2 separate regions of the Homo sapiens genome follow, and region 1 is linked to region 2. The links come from fine-mapping of genetic effects on gene expression. Tissue or cell type: subcutaneous fat. Region 2 holds a variant in brackets; the other region holds the start of a gene. All regions are shown on one strand. Distances are between the middles of the regions.

The links.
Region 1: it holds the start of CEACAM19, and the variant in region 2 is fine-mapped to the expression of CEACAM19 in subcutaneous fat (GTEx, PIP 0.92). The same link has a PIP of 0.9 or more in fibroblasts, thyroid, tibial artery, tibial nerve and whole blood.

Annotation. Positions count from the first base shown.
Region 1 is chr19:44,669,287-44,673,675 of GRCh38, reverse strand. CEACAM19 (CEA cell adhesion molecule 19) reads right to left here and starts at 2,194. Exons shown (of 8, transcript NM_001127893.3): 1 at 1,690-2,194; 2 at 712-1,080. The coding sequence starts at 1,744.
Region 2 is chr19:44,611,265-44,615,653 of GRCh38, reverse strand. IGSF23 (immunoglobulin superfamily member 23) reads right to left here and starts at 2,091. Exons shown (of 5, transcript NM_001205280.2): 1 at 1,884-2,091. The coding sequence starts at 2,008. RefSeq lists an enhancer at 178-679. The variant A/TA (reference allele first, on the strand shown) is at 2,045.

The sequences.
Region 1 (4,389 bases), 58 kb before region 2:
GAGTTGTTTTAAGGTAAAAATGAGTAAATATAGAGTAATGGTTCTCAACCAGGGGTGATTCTTATCCCAGGGTGGAGACATTTGGTAATATCTGAAGACATTTTTGGTTGGCATGACTAGGAAGCTGCTACTGGTACCTAGTGAGTAGAGGCCGGGGTGCTGCTGAAATCTCTGCAATGCACAAACCCTCTACTAGTAAGAACTGGCCAATACAAAACATCAGTAGTGCTGAAGCTGAGAAACTATGCTTTAGGGAAAATGTTTAAGATGGTGCCTGGCTCTTAACGATCACCCAAGAAATGCCAGCTGTCATTATTGCCCACCACCCTTTCCCTCACACTTTGCCCCGAGTGGATTCATCAGTAAATACTCGCTTTATAAACATAAAGATTGAGGGATGCATTCCTCACAACCAGGCATACAGTAAGTGCTCGATAAAAATTTGGTTAATGTTAGTGCATGTGAAAGGTAAATGAGATGGTGCATTCTCCAGTGTCAGGCACAAGGCGGGCATTTCATAGATATTTTATTAGTTAATGCATGTGAGGGTTAAAGACTATCTCTGGGGATTGGTACACAGTAGATGCTCAATATGTGTCAAGTGAATAAATGAGAGGACCAAATGAAATGGTGTTTGCACAGCACCTGGTGCATGGTAGCTGCTCAGGGCTCATTAGCTTCCTCACCTCATCCCCAGACCCTAACACTTACCAGCTACCTGGACCTCAGTCTTGGCCTTCATAGTCCATTCAGAGTTGATGGTAATGGCTACTTGGTAGGTGCCACTGTCTGTAGGCTGGGCGCGGCGCAGCAGCATGGAACCATTGGGGAAGCCCACGATGTCTCGCTGTCCCATGGCACTGCCATCCCTCTGAGGCCGTTGTATCCCAGGGATGTAGGTAAATAGCCTCGTGCCTCCGTACGTCTCCTCCCCCAGGTACCAGTTGAAGTCCTGGAAGGTGTCTGGGACACCCTGGACTGACAGGAGAAGGTCCTGGTTCTTTTGAGGCTGCTCTGGAATCTTCTGGATGTAGAGAGCTGCCTGGGAGCCTTGGAGCATCCAGAGGACCAGGATTGAGGCTGTGGGAAGTTACAGGGAAGGGCTGAGATCAGGGGTGTTGCCAGGGACCATGGCATGCTCCTCTCTAGATACAGATCTTCAGCGGGGAGCAAGGACTCTGAGTGCTGCTCATTGGAAACAATGCTGGGATTGATTAGTGATGTCTGCCCTGGGTGCAGGAGTGGGAACACAGGCATGGTTACCACAGATTTGCCATCCTGTTGATCCAGAGGTTTTTCTACCTTGAGATGCTGTGTGGCCTGCTTCTAAACACATGGACTCTCTGAATTCATTCATTCATTCATTTATTCAACCAATACTTATAGGCATATGTAATATATAAGCTATAATACCAACTATATGTAATACATCTAAACTTCCTTCAATTTCTAGACACTGGAGATATAGCAGGGAACCAAACATACATAAATTCCTGCCTTCATGGTCCTAACATTATAGAAAATTCCATAGATAAAATGGCAATGAGGCTGTGATTCTGTTGCCCCTCCCCCATCTTATTCTAATTTCATCCTCTCAGGTAATCTTTCCCTACTTCTAAGAGGAAACTTCAATCTCTGGGCTGAGTCCCCATTTCTCCCCTTGGCCTTTAGGGTCTATTTCCTCCTTACCTGAGAGCAGGAGGCTCTTTGAGAAGCAGCCCTGGGTCCCCATGGGAATCTCCATCTTGGCGTCTTGTGGAAATGCCAAGGGGCCACGAGCTGGACACTAAGGGGGCCAGAGGGGTGGGCCCTGGCTGTCTGAAGTAGGCCAGCTCAGTGGGGATCCCAGGGGTGCCTTAGAGACACCGCTGGGGCTGGCCCAGCCCCAGCATGCCCTGTCCATGGGCTCTGGAGGCTCCACCTATACTCCCTGGGATGGGAGCACAGACAGAGGTTGAACCAGTTTTTCAGGGTGACTGGGGAACTTCCCAGGACTCCTCCCCTGACCCTCTTCAACCTCTTTTTCTCACTCAGCGTGACTACAACAGCAGTCACTGTAGCAATAGTCATAACAGCCTCTGTTTGAACAATTCCCCTGGGTTTGTTCAAACACACACTGCCTCATTCAGCAGCCACCATAAATAACTGTTCCCATTGCACAGATGTGGAAACAGAGGCCCAGGAAAAGAGGCAAGTCTGCCAATAGACAGAGGTGGGATTTCACCTGTGGCTGACTCACTTGAAGGCTCTGAGGCAGGCTGGGTGCGGTGGCTCACGCCTGTAATCCCAGCATTTTGGGAGGCCAAGGTGGGTAGATCACGAGGTGAGGAATTTGAGACCAGCCTGGCCAACATGGTGAAACCCTGTCTCTACTAAAAATACAAAAGTTAGTCAGGCGTGGTGGTGGGCACCTGTAATCCCAGCAACTGGAGAGGCTGAGGCAGGAGAATCACTTGAACTTGGGAGGCAGGGGTTGCAGGGAGCCGAGATCGCGCCACTGCATTCCAGCCTGGGTGACAGAGCGAGACTTCGTCTCAAAAAAAAAAAAAAGCTCTTAGCCTCGTGTTTTTCTTTTTTTTTCTTTTGAGATGGAGTTTCGCTCTTGTTGCCCAGGCTGGAGTGCAATGGCGCAATCTCAGTTCACCGCAACCTCTGCCACCTGGGTTCAAGCGATCCTCCCACCTCAGGGAGTAGCTGGAAATGCAGGCATGCGCCACCACGCCCGGCTACTTTTGTAGTTTTAGTAGAGACAGGGTTTCTCCATGTTGGTCAGGCTGGTCTTGAACTCCTGACCTCAGGTGATCTGCCCACCTTGGCCTCCCAAAGTGCTGGGATTACAGGTGTGAGCCACCGCGCTCAGCCTGTTTTTTTTTTTTTTTTTTTTTTTTTTTTTTCTTGAGACAGGGTCTTGCTCTGTCTTTCCATTCATGAACATTGGTTGTCTTACCATTTAAATATGTCACCTATAATTGCAAGAATATTTTGTAGTTTTTGGATTGGTTTCTTTTTTAGATGCTGTGTCACCCAGGCTGGAGTACAGTGGCACAATCTCAGTTTACTGCAACCTCCGCCTCCCAGGTTCAAGTGATTCTTCTGCCTCAGCCTTCTGAGTAGCTGGGATTACAGGCATGCGTCACCATGCCTGGCTAATTTTTGTATTTTTAGTAGAGATGGGGTTTTGCCATGTTGGCCAGGCTGGTCTCAAACTCCTGACCTCAGATGATCCTCCTGCCTCGGCCTCCCAAAGTACTAGGAGTATAGGCATGAGCCACTGCACCCAGCCCCAGAGTGTATGTTTTGTACTTTTTTGGATCATGTTTATTCCAAGTGTGTTATTCTTTTTTTTTTTTTTTAAGACAGGGTCTCGCTCTGTTGCCCAGGCTGGAGTATAGTTGCATGATCATTGCTCACTGCAGCCTCCAACTCCTGGGCTCAAGCAATCCTCCCGTCTCAGCCTCCTGAGTAGCTGGGACCACAGTTGTGTGCTACCATCCCTGGTCAATTTTTATATGTTTTGTAGAGATGGGATCTCACTATGTTGCCCCAGGCTGGTGTTGAACTCCTGGGCTCAAGTGATCCTCCCACCTTAGCCTCCCAAAGTACTGGGATTACAGATGTGACTCACCATACCTGGCTTAGCCTAGTTTTTAAAAAGCATCCTCCATTCATTCCAGCACACATTCCCAGTGCCCAGTTGTGTGTGCTGGGTGATGTTGGTGACACAGTGATGATTGAGACCACCTCTGCTCTGCCCTCTGTCCACAGTAGGGCACACAATCCTGTAGGGTTTGGGGGGGCAGACCCCTCTCACACAATTATGATCCAGAGTGATCAGGGCTGGGATGGAGGAGCCCAGGAGTCTGGGAGAGCCCAAGGAGACACACCTCATTCAACCTGACGGCTAGGGAGGGCTTCCTGGGGGAGGGGGCATCTGAGCTGAGACCTGGAGTAAGAGTAGAAATGAGGCAGATGATGGGGTGAGGCAGCATGAGGTGCACCAGGCAGCATAAATAGCAATGCAAGGATGTGGAGGCTGAGATAGTCATCAAGGTGTATTGAGGAGGTTGCAATATCTTGGGTGAGTGGAGCCAGGAAGGAGGGTGTGGGGCCTGTGTGTGTGAGGCTGGGAGGTAGGAGAGATCAAATGTGCTCTGTTGGTTGGATCAACAGAGCTTGGATAATGGAGGGTCTAGTGTTATGCTGTTTAATATCATAGCTATTAGTCATATGTGGCTATTTAAATATAAATTTAGGGAGGCACAGGTGACCCACACTTGTAATCCTACCCCTCTGAGAGGCTGAGGTGGGAAGATTGCTTGAGCCTAGGAATTGGAGACCAGGCTGGGCAACATAGTAGGACCCCAACTTTACACAAAACAAATTTAAAAA
Region 2 (4,389 bases):
ATGGAACTGAACTTTTTTTTTTTTTTTTTAAAGATGGAGTTTCGCTCTTGTTGCTCAGGCTGGAGTGCAATGGCACCATCTCAGCTAACCGCAACCTCCGCCTCCTGGGTTCAAGCAATTCTCCTGCCTCAGCCTCCCAAGTAGCTGGGATTACAGGCATGCACCACCACGCCCAGCTAATTTTCTGTTTTTAGTAGAGACGGGGTTTCTCCATGTTGGTCAGGCTGGTCTTGAATTCCTGACCTCAGATGATCCGCCCGCCTTGGCCTCCCAAAGTGCTGGGATTACAGCACTTTGTAATCCCAGCCACTGCACCCGTGAGCCACTGCACCCGGCTCAGAACTGAACTTTATTTATTTATTTTTGAGACGGAGTCGTGCTCTGTCGCCCAGGCTGGAGTGCAGTGGCACGATCTTGGCTCACTGCAAGCTCCGCCTCCCGGGTTCACGCCATTCTCCTGCCTCAGCCTTCTGAGTAGCTGGGACTACAGGCGCCCGCCACCAGGCCTGGCTAATTTTTTGTATTTTTAGTAGAGACGGGGTTTCACCGTGTTAGCCAGGATGGTCTCGATCTCCTGACCTCGTGATCCGCCTGCCTCGGCCTCCCAAAGTGCTGGGATTACAGGTGTGAGTCACCGCGCCCAACTCAGAAGTGAACTTTTAAGACCTGGATAAGGAAGCAATTCATTCACTATCTGAGAGGCAGATGTGTGTGGTCTCTGGAAAGTGTGGTCTGGGAAGCCAGCCCATCTGGCTTCAAATCTTCAGTCTGCCACTTCCAAGTGTGTGACCTGGAGAGGGCACATGACCTCTCTGAACCTCAGTTTCCCCTTCTGTGAAATAGGGATCGTACAGCTCTGATCTCAAAGAGTTGTGATAAGAGGTAAATGTTACTATAGGAAAGCACTTAGAACGGGCTGACAGGCTGGGCGCAGTGGCTCACGCCTGTAATCCTGGCACTTGGGGAGGCCGAGGCAGGAGGATCGCTTGAGCCCAGGAGTTCGAGACTAGCCTGGGCAACATAGTAAGACCTCATCTCTACTAAAAATAAAAAATTAGCTGGGTTTGGTGGCGCATACCTATGGTCCCAGCTACGCAGGACGCTGAGGCAGGAGAACAGCTTCAGCCCAGCAGGTTGAAGCTGCAATGAGTCATTATCGGGCCACTGCACTGTAGCCTGGACAACAGAGCAAGACCTTGTCTCAAAACAAAACAAAACAAAAAAACAAAAACCCCAAACAGGCTGGTATATAGATCTATTCAGTTACAGTGACCTTCTATTACGGCTGTTATTATTTTATGATTGTTATTATTTATATGTATTATTACTAAGTTGCGGATTGCAGGGGTGAGACAGGGCATTCTGGTGGAAGGGGGCTGGGCTGGGGTCCCAAATTCTGATCCTGCCCCTTGCCAGCCCTGTGATCTTGGGTAGGTGACCTGTTCTCCTCTTTGCGCCTCACTTCCCTTCTTCCTAAAAGAAGCCAATAGGGTCATCTCTTGTGGCGGAGTGGCCTTCAAGAGTTCTCATGAGTTGGGTGCCTGAGCTGCATGGGCCTCAAACTGACAGGGTCAAAGCTCTGAGTGGGGGTGACTTGGACTCGTAAGGAGACACTCTCCTCCTTGTCCCTGGCCCGTGGTGAAGCCGCTGTCTCCAACGCACCTGTTAAAAGCAGCTTCCTCCAGGTAGGGGTGTGGCTGGAGCTGACGTCCAGAGGACCCCTCATCTCGTGTTCTGTCCAGGGACTGTGCAGAGAAGGTCTCCTCATCACACATGGGGTCTTCATAGACCTGTACAGTCGCGTCTGCAGCCCCGGCCTCACCCTGCAGGACCCTGCTCACGATGACCATGCCCTACCCTGGCCACTTCCCCACATGACTTACACCAAGTTGGCTGGGAAGTCACCTCCAGCCGCATCCTTCTCTAGCATCGGGTCAGTGGTGGTGGTGGGTGGGGACCAGGCTGGGACAGGGTTCCTGGGAAGGGGGCTCTGAGGTTTTGCTCTCATTCTCTCACCGTACAATCCCCGCCGGGAGATGGAGGG[A/TA]GAAGCAGAATCGCCCGCTCCTATCACTCACATCAAAGGCAAGGAATGGCCAAAGGTCAACCTGGTAGGAGGTGACGGGGCTTTGGACTCTGAACCACAGCTTTTCTCCTCTGTAAAATGGAGGCGTTAATAATAGTGCCTGCCCCAGAGTCAGACAGGGCCGTGGACACAAGGTGCTTGGAGTAGTGCCTGGTCACGTAGTAGGCGCTCAACGAATGGCAGTCACTATGAAGTCAATGCTAATTATAATTTGGTGTCTAGGATGTCCTGGAGGCATGTTTAGAATCCCGTTATCAGGAGCTTGCTCAGACTATATCCTGAATTTTAGATTCTAGAAGGATAAGCTACACTAGCTACTTTTTCCTCACCCTTCTCACTCCCCAGGTCCATTCTTTCCTCCTCAAATTAATAATTATATTACTCAAACTAATAGCTGGTGTTTATTGAACACCTACTATATGCCGGACACAGCATTAACCTTGTAACAGGGTTGCCTAATTTGAATCCTCATAGCAACCTCGAGGGGTAGATATGAGCATCCCCATTTTCTCGTGGTGCACAGGGGCTAAGTAACTCACCTACCATCACACAACCGTTCACAGGGGCTTTCTGCCAGTTTTTGGAGGCACCAGCTCAGGGGCTTTGCATGAGCCGTTCCCTCTCCTTAGAACCTTACTCATGTAATCTCAAAGCTGACTGTATCTTATTATTTTGGCTTAATTCACACACATCACTCTATCAAAAAGGCCTTTCTTAATGCCTGCTGCAACTCAGTTCCCCACCTCTTTGCTAGCAAGCCACACTGTTTTGTTTTCTTTACATCATTTACCGCTATTTTAGATGATTTATTTATTTGTCCACTTGTATTATCTGTCTCTCCCTCCTTAGTCCCACCTCTCCGACTTGAATATCAGATCCAGGAGGGCAGGGATGTTGTCTGGCTTGTGGCTATGTCCCTAGTGACTAGAACAGTGCCTTGCATATAACAGGTGCTCAATACATGTTTTTGTTTTTGAGACGGGGTCTCACTCTGTCAGCCAGGCTGGAGTGCAGTGGCACGGTCATAGCTCACTGCAGCTTCAACCTTTTGGATTCAAGCAATAATCCTGCCTCAGTCTCCTGAGTAGCTGGGACTACAGTCTCACACTACCATTCCCAGCCAATTAAATTTTTTTTCTTTTTGTAGAAATAGAGTTTCACTATATTACCCAGGCTGGTCTCAAACTTCTGGGCTCAAGTGATCCTCCTGCCTCAGCCTCCCAGAGTGCTGGGATTACAGGCATGAACCACCTAGCCAGCCTACATGTTTTCTTTTTAGTGAATAAATGAATGAAGAGCAAGTGAGTGAAATGGGAGTGTTCAGACTTGAACTCAGATCTTTCTGACTTAGAAGCTCATGCTTTTCCCTCCCAGAGAGGTTCAGGTTCCACCCAGGGGCTAAGGTTCACCCATAAGTCTCTAATAATAGTCATTATCAGGTGACACAGTTATTTCTTTATTAGCATTTGCTAAAGTGCCTTTTTTATAGTTGGTCTGAAGGCCTCTGCTGGAGTGATTAGCTAGGTCAGGAGACCACTGTAGGAAAAAGTAAATATTTACGATGCAGTTAATAACCATTATGTTGTAAGGTTTCTGGGGTTTCTACCCAGCCAGTACTCTCTTGTATCCAGGTAACAGCACCTGGAGTTCTCTTTTGGAAACCAGCCTCCTCATGGCTCCAGGGAGGTGAGGGGCCCAGGACTGGCCAATCAGAGCACTTCATCCCCTGACAACAGTGATTTTTGGAGACCTGGGCGTGGCACTCAGAACAGGCCAAGGAGAAGCAATCTCTTACGGATTTTATTGGAACTCTGGGGAATAAAGCAATTTTTCTTTTTTCTGTTTTTAAATTTTTATTTATTTATTTAAAGACAGAGTCTTGCTGTGTTGCTCAAGCTGGAGTGCAGTGGTGTGATCTCTGCTCGCTGCAACTTCCACCTCTGGGGTTTAAGAGATTCTCATGCCTCAGCCTCCGGATTAGCTGGGATTACAGGCATGTGCCACCATGCCCAGCTAATTTTTTCATATTTTTAGTAGAGACAGTCTTTCACTATGTTGCCCAGGCTGGTCTTGAACTCCTGGCCTCCAGTGACCCACCTGCCTCGGCCTCCCAAAGTGGTGGGATTATAGGCGTGAGACACCGCACCCAGCCTAAAAGCATTTTTTCTTGCTTCCGGGTTTGCTGAGCTGAAGAGATCTCAGTGTGCAGCTGCTGGGGGCCATCTTTCTATCATGAGTAGAGAGATTGCCTAAAAACGAGGCCAACACATGTGAAAGCATAGTCAATGCACAGAAAGAGAGATTTC